2 separate regions of the Homo sapiens genome follow, and region 1 is linked to region 2. The links come from fine-mapping of genetic effects on plasma protein levels. Region 2 holds a variant in brackets. A gene starts in the other region. All regions are shown on one strand. Distances are from middle to middle.

The links. PIP is the posterior inclusion probability: the model's chance that the variant is causal. Protein levels are from antibody-based Olink assays in UK Biobank. Linkage for the fine-mapping came from a reference panel and not from the study's own genotypes, which makes the PIPs less certain.
Region 1: it holds the start of NOTCH2, and the variant in region 2 is fine-mapped to the plasma level of the NOTCH2 protein (UK Biobank, PIP above 0.99).

The regions. Positions count from the first base shown.
Region 1 is chr1:120,067,126-120,072,504 of GRCh38, reverse strand. It overlaps NOTCH2 (notch receptor 2), which reads left to right and starts at 2,843. Exons shown (of 34, transcript NM_024408.4): 1 at 2,843-3,171. The coding sequence starts at 3,099. It overlaps LOC101929178 (a long non-coding RNA gene), which reads right to left and starts at 2,677. Exons shown (of 2, transcript XR_254374.4): 1 at 2,494-2,677.
Region 2 is chr1:147,902,657-147,907,979 of GRCh38, reverse strand. GJA8 (gap junction protein alpha 8) reads right to left here and starts at 5,185. Exons shown (of 2, transcript NM_005267.5): 1 at 5,119-5,185; 2 at 1-35. The coding sequence starts at 24. The variant C/T (reference allele first, on the strand shown) is at 2,631.

The DNA of each region.
Region 1 (5,379 bases), 28 Mb after region 2:
ATACCTATTTTTTTTTTTTTTTTTTTTTTGAGACGGAGTTTCACTCTTGTTGTCCAGGCTGGAGTACAGTGGCACGATCTTGGCTCACTGCAATCTCTGCCTCCTGGGTTCAAGTGATTCTACTGCCTCAGTCTCCTGAGTAGCTGGGATTACAGGTGCTCGCCACCATGCCCGGCTAATTTTTGGTATTTTTAGTAGAGACGGGTTTTCAACATGTTGGCCAGGCTGGTCTCAAACTCCTGACCTCAGGTGATCTGCCCACCTCAGCTTCCCAAAGTGCTGGGATTATGACATAAGCCGCCACGCCTGGCCTGCACATTTATTTTAATAATGTTGTCATAGCTACAGTCGCTTCTAGAGTTGCTCTTTGGGGATAACTATCTTATATTCTTCTGAATATATTTTAATAGTGACAAAACTTATCTTTGCAGGTGATTTTTAAAATTTGTATGCAGCCAAGTCACTATGAATTATCTTTAGTGAGTAAAGAGGAAGATCGAACTGGTAACACTGTGGGTAAACAACTGAAAAATAATGTTATCTTTCTCTGAACATACTTGCACAAGACAAATTCCAAAAATATTTTGACTACATTATTTTTGAAAAGGGTTTCCAGTATTTCAATGTGACTACTTTCACTAATGGTACTTGCTTACCTAAAGTGCTTGTTAACATGCAGTTTTGGAACTTCATAGGTCTATGCCCATACTGACTTGTACTTGCTTAGTGTTGTTTCACATTCTAGTTCAACATCTATTATGTGATAGACACTGGGGATTAATAGGCTGTGGTCTTTGCCCATGAGGACCTCAAAACTTAGTTGAGAACACAGAAATACAAAGAGTCCTGTGTGAAAAATAAGTATCGGTGTTAAGATAAAGAAGCGGCAGTGGAAGACAGTGGAGGGACTGTCTGTTAGGGGGAGGAATTTATTGCGGTGTCGGCAAAGCCTTCTTTGGACTGAAGGATGAATTATGATTAGAAGTTCATTAAGAGGAGGAGGGAAGGGGACTACAGGAGTCATTCCAAGCCAAAGGAACAAAAGATACAGGGACAGAAACAGCAAGATATGTTTGGGGGAATCTCAAGTTAGTCAATACTGTTATTGTGTGAAGTTCACAACAGGGGCAGGGAGGACAGGAGATGGGGCCCAATGACGAAAAGGCCTTGTATGTACCATGTTTAGAAGTTTGAATTTTATCCTATAGGAGTCAGGGAGAGGTTCTATGGGTAGGATTTCCCATCCCAACAGGATTGTAAACTCCCACATCCAATTAGTCACACCTCCATTTTTTTTTTCTGTTTCTTTAACATTGTCTCGGATTCATTCCTTCTGAAATCTACCTTATTAGTTCAGGTCTTCTTAAATTTGTGCCTGGACTGTTCACCAACTCTTGACTGGTCCTGGGGCTCCAGTTCACCTCTTGCTCCCCCAACAATCAATTTTCTACAGAATTATCAGAGCAATCTTCCTTTCCATCAATCTCAACTCTGTTCAAAAACTTTCAATAGTTTTATGTGACCTAAGAGGTAGCTGCCTCCCCACCCTTTCAGCTTGCCATTCAAGGCTGCATAATTTGGTCCCAACCCCCTTTCCGTCCTTGACTCCTCTCACTGCTAACAGAGACAGAACTCATTTACTTACTCTTTTGACTGTACCTTTGCTTTCACGAGGGCTCTTTCCTGGAATGATATGTCCATACAACTATTGTTGCTGTTCTTACTTTTAGCTCTTTTCTTAGAAGCCCACTTGTACCCAGGTTTGATCACACCCCCTACTCTCCTGCCCTGGAAGTAACTACTATTCTGGTTATAGTCTCTTAATATCTATATCTATATATATGCATCCACAGATAATGTGTAGTATTGTCTTGAAAAAAATATACATAAATGGTATACTTTGTCTCCCTCTGTGATTAGTTTTTTCACTATCATTTAGTTTTTAAGATTTATCCCTATTGACATAAATAGCTATAGTCTTTTCAATTACTGTGTTGCATTTCATTTTATAAATATACCATACATTATTCATCCATTCCTCTAAGGGTGGGCATTTATGTTGTTTTCAAGGTTTTGCTATTACAGTGTTACAACGAATATCCTTAGCTTAGCTGGTCTCCTTGTCTTATACAAATTTTACTGACCTTTCAAGATCCTGCTTTCATCCCAGCTCCTCTGGGAAAGCCTTCCCTGAATCCCCCAGCCCACAGCGGCAAAGTCTTGGTACTCAAAGTTGCTTGTGCATCTTTGGTATCATCCCACTGCCAAGCACACAGCTACGCAAAGTAAGGCACTTAAGAAATATTCGCTACACGGATGAACAAATGAATGAATGAATGGGGCAGCACCACTCCGTGATGGCTCTATTCCTTTTTAATGGACTTTGGCGCCTTGGCCCACTTTCCTTCTTTGACAGCACTGGTCCTACTCCAGAGCATTCCTCTAGCTAGCAAAGCAGTGTGTGGATGTGTGGGTGTAGGTGGCGATACAGACCTCACTGGATGAGGACCGCCTCTCCCTGCAAGTTCACGATCCCGGCAAACTCCAGTGCTTGAAGTTCAGAGTCCTACCCCACCCCCCTCACCCCCACGCCCCTTCTGCACTGGTCAAGCCAGCGAGCCGCTGCAGCCCTGATCGAGTTAAGGCGCGGCGGCCCCCGGGGCCGCTGGAGAAGGATGCGGACGGGGCCAGTGACTCGTAGTAGATCCCTCCGCGCGGAGCTCGGGCCGGCGCTTCTTCCTGCGGGAAACCCCTGGGTGCCCAAGGCGGCGGGGCCGAGGCCGCGGCGACAGTGGGGCGGGGCTTGCGGTGGGAGGAGGCGGCTGAGGCGGAAGGACACACGAGGCTGCTTCGTTGCACACCCGAGAAAGTTTCAGCCAAACTTCGGGCGGCGGCTGAGGCGGCGGCCGAGGAGCGGCGGACTCGGGGCGCGGGGAGTCGAGGCATTTGCGCCTGGGCTTCGGAGCGTAGCGCCAGGGCCTGAGCCTTTGAAGCAGGAGGAGGGGAGGAGAGAGTGGGGCTCCTCTATCGGGACCCCCTCCCCATGTGGATCTGCCCAGGCGGCGGCGGCGGCGGCGGAGGAGGAGGCGACCGAGAAGATGCCCGCCCTGCGCCCCGCTCTGCTGTGGGCGCTGCTGGCGCTCTGGCTGTGCTGCGCGGCCCCCGCGCATGGTGAGTATCGGGCTGAGGGGCGCTGTCCGCGGCGCCCGGGGCTGCCACCTGGGGCGACCCTTCTCCCCCTCGGTCCTTCTCTGTGTGGGAAGGCCAGGCTCGGCCGCCGGCGCGGAGCGAGGCCACTCGCTGGGTTCCCAAGAGTTTGGACATCGCCGGGGGCCCCTCCCGTGGTGCCCCGCCAACCGCCGGGGTTCCCCGCCGCCTCTGCTCCCCGCGGCCCGGGACCCCTTACACGCCTCCTCGGCAGGAGGGAGGCCGGCAGCAAGTCTCAGAAACTCCTTTTTCGTAGTGCCAGGGTGCAGGGAGGTGGGCAGTTTTGCCCTTCAGGTTCCGCGTTTCTTGGGGTCGAGCGAGAGCCGACGGCGGGCCTCGGAGGGGCTGAGCGAAGGAATGCCAGATTCTGGCGTGGAGAGCGGGGGCAGGGCCGCCAAGCCAAACGGCCTGCACCGTCGCAGCCAGCCTCGCCTTTGCCAGGGGGCGGCACATGGGCCGGGTGTGTGGGCTTGGTTTGGATGGGGACGGGGTTTTGCGGCGCGCCTGAGTTTTGACACTCCAACCCCACCGAAAGTCCGGGGGAGCCGTGTGTGCTGCTCGCGTCTTTGAAAGGTGGAGGCAGGAGAAGTAGGGCAACTGGTGTGGCTGCATGCTGAGGCACATGATTTAAAAATCTCAACTGCTGTTATTCTTTCCGAGGCGCGGAGCTCTGCTGCTGTTTCAGGCTGTGTCCAGACCCAGGAATGTGGTGTGACGATCACCAATTCCTCCAACCTGGCAGCAGCATTTGCTGCTCCTTTGGCATGGCTGGGGGTGGGGCACGGGCGGGTGAGAAAAAGTGGATACGTTAATTCAAAGGGCTTCCTTAGAAAGCTTCTTTATGGTTGGATGTTTCTAACACGGTTGGACCAAGGAAAGGGAATCAAATCATATCTTCCCCATCCCACCCACACTTTTAGATTCTACATTTCTTCAGACCCTTTAGTGGAAATAACTTGGGCTTTGGAGCCCTGCTCTGTAATCCTGGATTCAAATCCAGCTCTGCTATATGAACTCACCAATAAAATGGGAAAGAAATTATCCAGCTAATAGGATTAATTAAAATAATGTATATTAAACGGATGACACTCCAAAGGTGTTCAGAAAGTCCTTTCAGGGCCGAGGCTGTGTTTTACTGCTTCTGAGATTGATGCTCCCAGTGGGATGCTGTCTTGTGCATATTTGTTGAACGGAAAGCAGCCCCTTCTTTTTCTGAGCCTAATCTGAATAAAGATTTTTACCTTCACCAAAAAACTAGTACATGAACTACATCTGTTTTCAAAGAAAAGGTTAGGAAGATGATGAGCTTCAGAAAAATATGGTCTTTGTTCATTGTTAACAGTCAGTCGACATGTCAATCGCAGATGTTTAAAAAGAGAACAAGGTTATTTATCACCCGAAAATAGTACTGGGTTGTTCAGCACCAACTAGATACTTCTTGGAAAGTTCAAATTTCGTACACGTCTAGGTCACTAAGAATTTCAGAAGTGGACCAGGAGGCTTTGTAGTGATGAAGCAGAGCCGTTGTTTCTGAAGCATTTAATAAAGAGCATATATGATGGTGTTTTTGCTTTTCCTTTTTCTTTGAGTGAAAGCTTTAAGTGTAGCTTTAGGATAGAGAGGAGTATGATCAATGAGACAGTCTGAGGGTAATAATCCTTGGTCTATCATTAACTTGTTTTGGTAAATAACTTAATCTTCATGATATGTAGTCTCCTCACCTATGAAGCAGGACTAAAGGAATAACCTGCTTTAGAGAATTGTAGGGAATAATAAATATAATTGTAAAGTGATTTGAAAAATTAAGTATTAAATAATATGATATCAGAAATGGGATTACTCTGACACATAGGGCTTCTTTTATTATAGGATCTCAGTGCATAAAACTATGCCCTCCACCTCTGCTCTGCTGAGGTGCTGCGATTATTAGCTAGCTTTTAGGTAGTCAAGTTGAGTGTTAGTCAAGTTGACTCAAAGGATAGGATTTAGATATTTTGATTTTTAGACAGGTGTTCTTTAGATGCTAAACTAATGCAGTAGAAGAGATTTAGAAGCCGTTTCTCGGTACAAATCTTAAATCTTCTTAGAGTCTACAGTGAAGGCTTCTTGAATCCTCTTAATTTATTATTGTGTTTTGCTAAGGTACCAGTTGCAGCACACCCTTCTAAACTT
Region 2 (5,323 bases):
CCCCAGGAAACTCCAGTCGCCCATTTCTCACCCACCTGAAGAAATGAGGGAGAAGGCAAGAGCTGAGCGGCCGCAATGCAACCCTGAGTCAATATCTGTTTTTGCTAACGCGGGGTACCTCTCCTTTCCAAGTTGCCAGAACGGTCAATGTGCACACAGCGTCTATCCAGTGCTTCCTTTGTGCAGACTAGGACTAGAGAACAAAGAAGGCCCCGAAGAATGTGCTTCCATCCGCTTCCTCATCTGTAAAATGGGTTTAATAATAATAATACCTATTCTCATTCACTTCACAAATGGTCTGAAAGCATCAATGAGGCAATATTTGTATAATTCCTTAAAGTCCACCAAAAATAAGGATTCATTGTTGACCATAAATAGAAACCCTTGGTTACATGGATTTAAATCAAGACCACACACTGATCTAAGTTTCGTGAGACATAATGCTGAAGAGTTCCCTTATACTATGGGTGTCTGGGCTCCCAACACAATTCTTGTATGTATGAAATTGTCTGTGGCCATCTTATGTTTGAGTGTCAGAATATATAATGATCGTATATTTGAAGGGAAGTGGAAGGGGATTAGCATTTATTGAATACCAACTTTGTGAAAGAACTTTGACATTATATTATTTCATTTAACTTGATCCTGCTAGACTGTAATTTCCATGACGGTAGGAGCCATGCCTGTCTTATTTACAGCTATATACTCAATGCCTGACATACAGCCCAGCACACAGTGAGAACTTGATAAGTATTTGTTAACTAAGTTGATTCCAACAAATAAGAAAACTGAAGGCCAGGCACAGTGGCTCATGCCTGTAATCCTAGAACTTTGGGAGGCCAGGGCAAGAGAATCACTTGAGCCCAGGAGATAGAGACTAGCCTGGGCAACACAGTGAGACCCCATCTCTACAAAAAACTTTAAAAACTAGCTGGGCTCGGTGGTGCATGCCTGTGTTCCCAGCTACTTGGGAGGCTGAGCCAGGAAGATTGCTTGAGCCTGGGAGGTCGAGGTTGCAGTGAACCCTGATATGTGCCACTATACTCCATCCTGGGCAACAGAGAAAGACCCTGTCTCAAAGGAAAAAGAAAAAAAAGAAAAAAGAAATCTGAGGCTCAGAGAGGCTAAATATATTGTCCAAGATTAGACAGCTAAATAGCAGCAGTTCTGTTTGCTTGATCACAAAGGCTGGGTTCTTCCCACTACACCATTGAGATAAACTGCCTGCAATCAAAGCTACACAATTCTTTGACTTCTGTGCTCTTAATTTATGTTTCCTCTTCTCTAGGTTGAAATCTGGAAACCCTTATTAATAGCTTTACACATTGAGGGCCGTATATTTTTATTATTACTCTTTTAAATCCAAAGAACAGAGAGAATGCTTTGGGAAGGAATCATGTCACAGGATGAGGAAGGTCTTCTAGGACACTTTTAGTGTCCTATGGAATGAAAATGTTTCAGGGTCTGTAACATATGGCTGTTTTAATAGAGTCAAAAATTTGGTCTATAGAAAAAATATCGTTAAACATGATAGTATATAATGCCTGTAGCACAGCAATGGCTAATGGAAATGGCATTGAGCTGACAAGGGGCTGGCTGCAACTGGGTCATTCATCCAGTGCAAACCTGTAACCTATAAAGAATGATGAGCAAAACTTCCACCTCAATGGAGAACAGTTGTTCCTGCAGCTTGAACATCTCTAGAGTTATAAGTTTACTCATCACTGCCCTCAGACCAGGGCAAGAGCCCATGTTAGAGGATCTTGCTCTGGGCTTCTTCTAGCCATGCCCCATGCTATAGGCCTAGGAACCTATGGGGCTAAAGGGATATGCCTATTGTTTTTTAATCACAGTGATATTTGTTAAACACAAAAGCCTATTTCCAACCTGTGATTTGGAGTCTGGCCAGACAGAACCTGGTGGCAGGATACTAATTGCAGGCATCTGCAATGTCCAGCCTGTGCTGTCAGGGCAGGCACAATAGCTGTTCGCTTCTTGTGGGAGAGCAGAGAGTGCTCCTCCTCTTGAGGCCTCATAAGCTCCCAATCAGGCAGGGCATCCTGCAGCAGCTTCTCTTCTCCTGAAAAAGTGACAGCAGCTGTGGCATCCCCAGTCATGGGTCTGGCATTGGGAAGAGTTCCTTGGAGAAATGGGTAATGGAGAGGGGGAAGGACCCAGCAGCTCGGAATCGGAACCAGCAACTCAATCCCAGCCACATGTATCTATTTTTAACTCTTCAGACTATAGTTAAGTCTAGTAATTGCCCTGGTAAGAGTGGTAGCCATTCCCATTGCCTTTTGGAAAATAGGTGGGAAACATCACAATCAGGTAAGCAGCCCAAGCATAAAGCTCACTGGTGGCAGAGCCAGGAAAAAGTTCATTTCTTATCAAATAGTTCATTCTAAAATTTATGTTAAAACAGCAATTTGAATAACTGTACTTCTATAAGATTTAGCTAATATCTTACTATCTTACTAATATCTTACTGAATCTTAACTATCTTGCTAATACTTACCCTCATTGATATATCAGTTCATTTTTGACAGTGTATTTCACTCACATACCCACATGAATGTGTGTGATGAGCACATGCTCTCAGTCCTGTATGTTAACCAATCTTGTTTTCCCCC[C/T]TTTAGTATCAAAAGGTTTTGGAGGGCAGGAACCATTTTGGCCTCATCTTTTGTGAACCATCACAACACAGAACAAAGCCCTTCACAGAGTGGGAGCTCCATAGACAGCAGTGCATGGTTCTAATAGTAATCCTTGTGAAATCTGAAATTCTCAATCCCCAAATTCCTGTAATATGAATACTAGAGACCAAGGAACTTCAGTCCTCTTGCTACAGCTAACAGCAGAAAAATTAAGAACTTGTAAAAAATGGTAAATAACAAAAAGGATAGTAAATTGATCCCCAACCAGCTGCTCTGAGACACAAAACTGCTTATTTTGTATGAGATCAAATATATAAACTGGAAGGCCAACAATTCTTGACAAGAGTGTCATGATACATGTTCATGACACAAGAAGTCGTTCCTGACCACTCATTAGTAATTTTGAAACCAAAGCCAAACAAGCCCATGTCTTTCTATACTCTAAGCCGCCATGCTAAGATTGTATTTTTTTTTAAATGTCTAGTTACAGTTTCTTGTGATAACTGAAGGAGAGAAACTGTAATTTAGGACACAATCTTTCCAACCCCATGATGTTGAAACAGGCCTACTGTGCTGTTAAGGAGAGACACTTTAGAGCTGCGAAGGGAAATGTATTGGTTTCCTGACTTCTAACAGTGAAAATTTAAAGGAAGTCAGATCAGAGAAGCAAAGCGTTCTGTGGGAGCAGGGAGAAATCTGAACCAAAGGAAGACTATTTCTCTTCTCTTTCTCAGAGATAATTCTCTGTTTTATTTTGCTTGTGAAAATTTAGTGAACAGACCTATTACAGATGGAAAATAAATGGATAGAGTTCAAGCCTCCAACCCCAGGGTGTCCATATATGGCCAGGAACATCCCACCAGAAAATGATGGCTAGAGGTAATGATTAAAATAACACCTTATGTTTGGGTATCCTTGATCTAAGTGATACATTTTCACGTATCTTATTTCAGTCCTCATAACAAGCTGTGAACTAGGCCAGTGGTTCTCAGACTTAGATTTCACAGACTAGTATAATAATAACAAACTAGTGTGACCAACATAAGGATACCAACTCCTTATTTTGCCAAACAAGGACATAAAAATAAGAGTTATTGGCTGGGCGTGGTGACTCATGCCTGTAATCCCAGCACTATGGGAGGCCGAGGTGGGAGGATCACTTGAGGTCAGGAGTTCAAGATCAGCCTGGCCAACAGGGTGAAACCCTATCTCTACTAAAAATACAAAAATTAGCTGGGCACGGTGGTGGGGCACCTGTAATCCCAGCTACTTGGGAGGCTGGGGCAGGAGAATTGCTTGAGCCCAGGAGGTGGAGGCTGCAGTGAGCTGAGATCACACCACTGCACTCCAGCCTGGGCAACACAGCGAGACTCTGTCTCAAAAAAAAAAAAAAAGAGTTATTAAATTACTAACTACAACTACAGTCTATTTTCATCATCATTTCATAAAAGGGGATTTTAACACCACAAAACTGGAGAGGACATAACTTCAGAATAAAAGACAAGCCTTTAAATTGAACACACTTAACTTGGTGAAACATTTACTACATTGTTAACTTTATCATTGTCACATTTTGGTCACAGGTTGTGGAAACCTTCATCTTGAGCTAGAACTGACAGATCCCCAGATGGATGTCTGAGAACCAGTGAACTTGGCATTATCAATCCCCATTACCAGACAAAAAGACAGGCTGGGAGGTGAAATGAGTCTCCAAGATGGGGGCTTAGCTAGTGAGGGCAGAGCTAGGCTGTGAGCCCTGGTCTTCTAGATCTAAGCCCATTACAGCATAGCCCTCCTCTGGTTTTGAAGAGGCAGAATAACACATATACATCCATTAATAAGTTATCCAAAGCGTTCAATGGCCACTTACCACTCTGGTTGGTAACCAGGTGGAAAGTGCCTCTTTTCTAGTTTCTAGAACAGCCACTAGCCAGCAGTTCTCATAGATAGACAACAGAACCTGCTCCTAGGAGGAATTTTATGGTCCTTAGCCAGATCCCTTCCTGTGCTCCATTAAATGCTCCAACATGGAAAATGCTGAGCACGAAGCCTCCGCTACCCCCACAGCATTCAGTAATTATGACTATTATTTCTATTGTAGAATTTGAGTGAAAAGGGCACAAAACTTTTTCATAAATATCAAATACTTGGTTTAGGTCCCTGTGGATTCCTGTAGACATGAAAAGAGCTTAAGAAGTCAAATTGTAGTTTGAGTTTGGACATCTCTGTTTCCCCATCCTGCTGATTATTCCAGCATTCCTCTCCCTTCCAAACCTCTGCCAGTTCTTAGGTCAACTTGAAGAGGGTTTTCAGAGTTGGAGTGTAAGTCTAGCCATCCCAGCCCAAGACTGAATCTTATTGGCAACCTTTTTCCTTTTGGAGAAGCCTATATATGGCCCTTAGATTAGGCTGAGAAAGAACAATTGGGGGGAAGGTTACAAACTAATATCACCCAAGGAAAACTTGCCAATACAAGGAGTGTCCCACGGAGAAATATGTGCTCTTTCTCTCTTGGCGCTCAGCAGCAAAATGGCAACTTTCGTCTCTTTCCTTTGCTGCCTAAAAGCCCACCTCCCACTTCTCTACCCCGCCCCTACTGTGCTGCACGACTGAGCAGATATGACTGGATTGGCCCTGATGGGTAGGTTTTACTGTCCAGCAATATTTTAAGC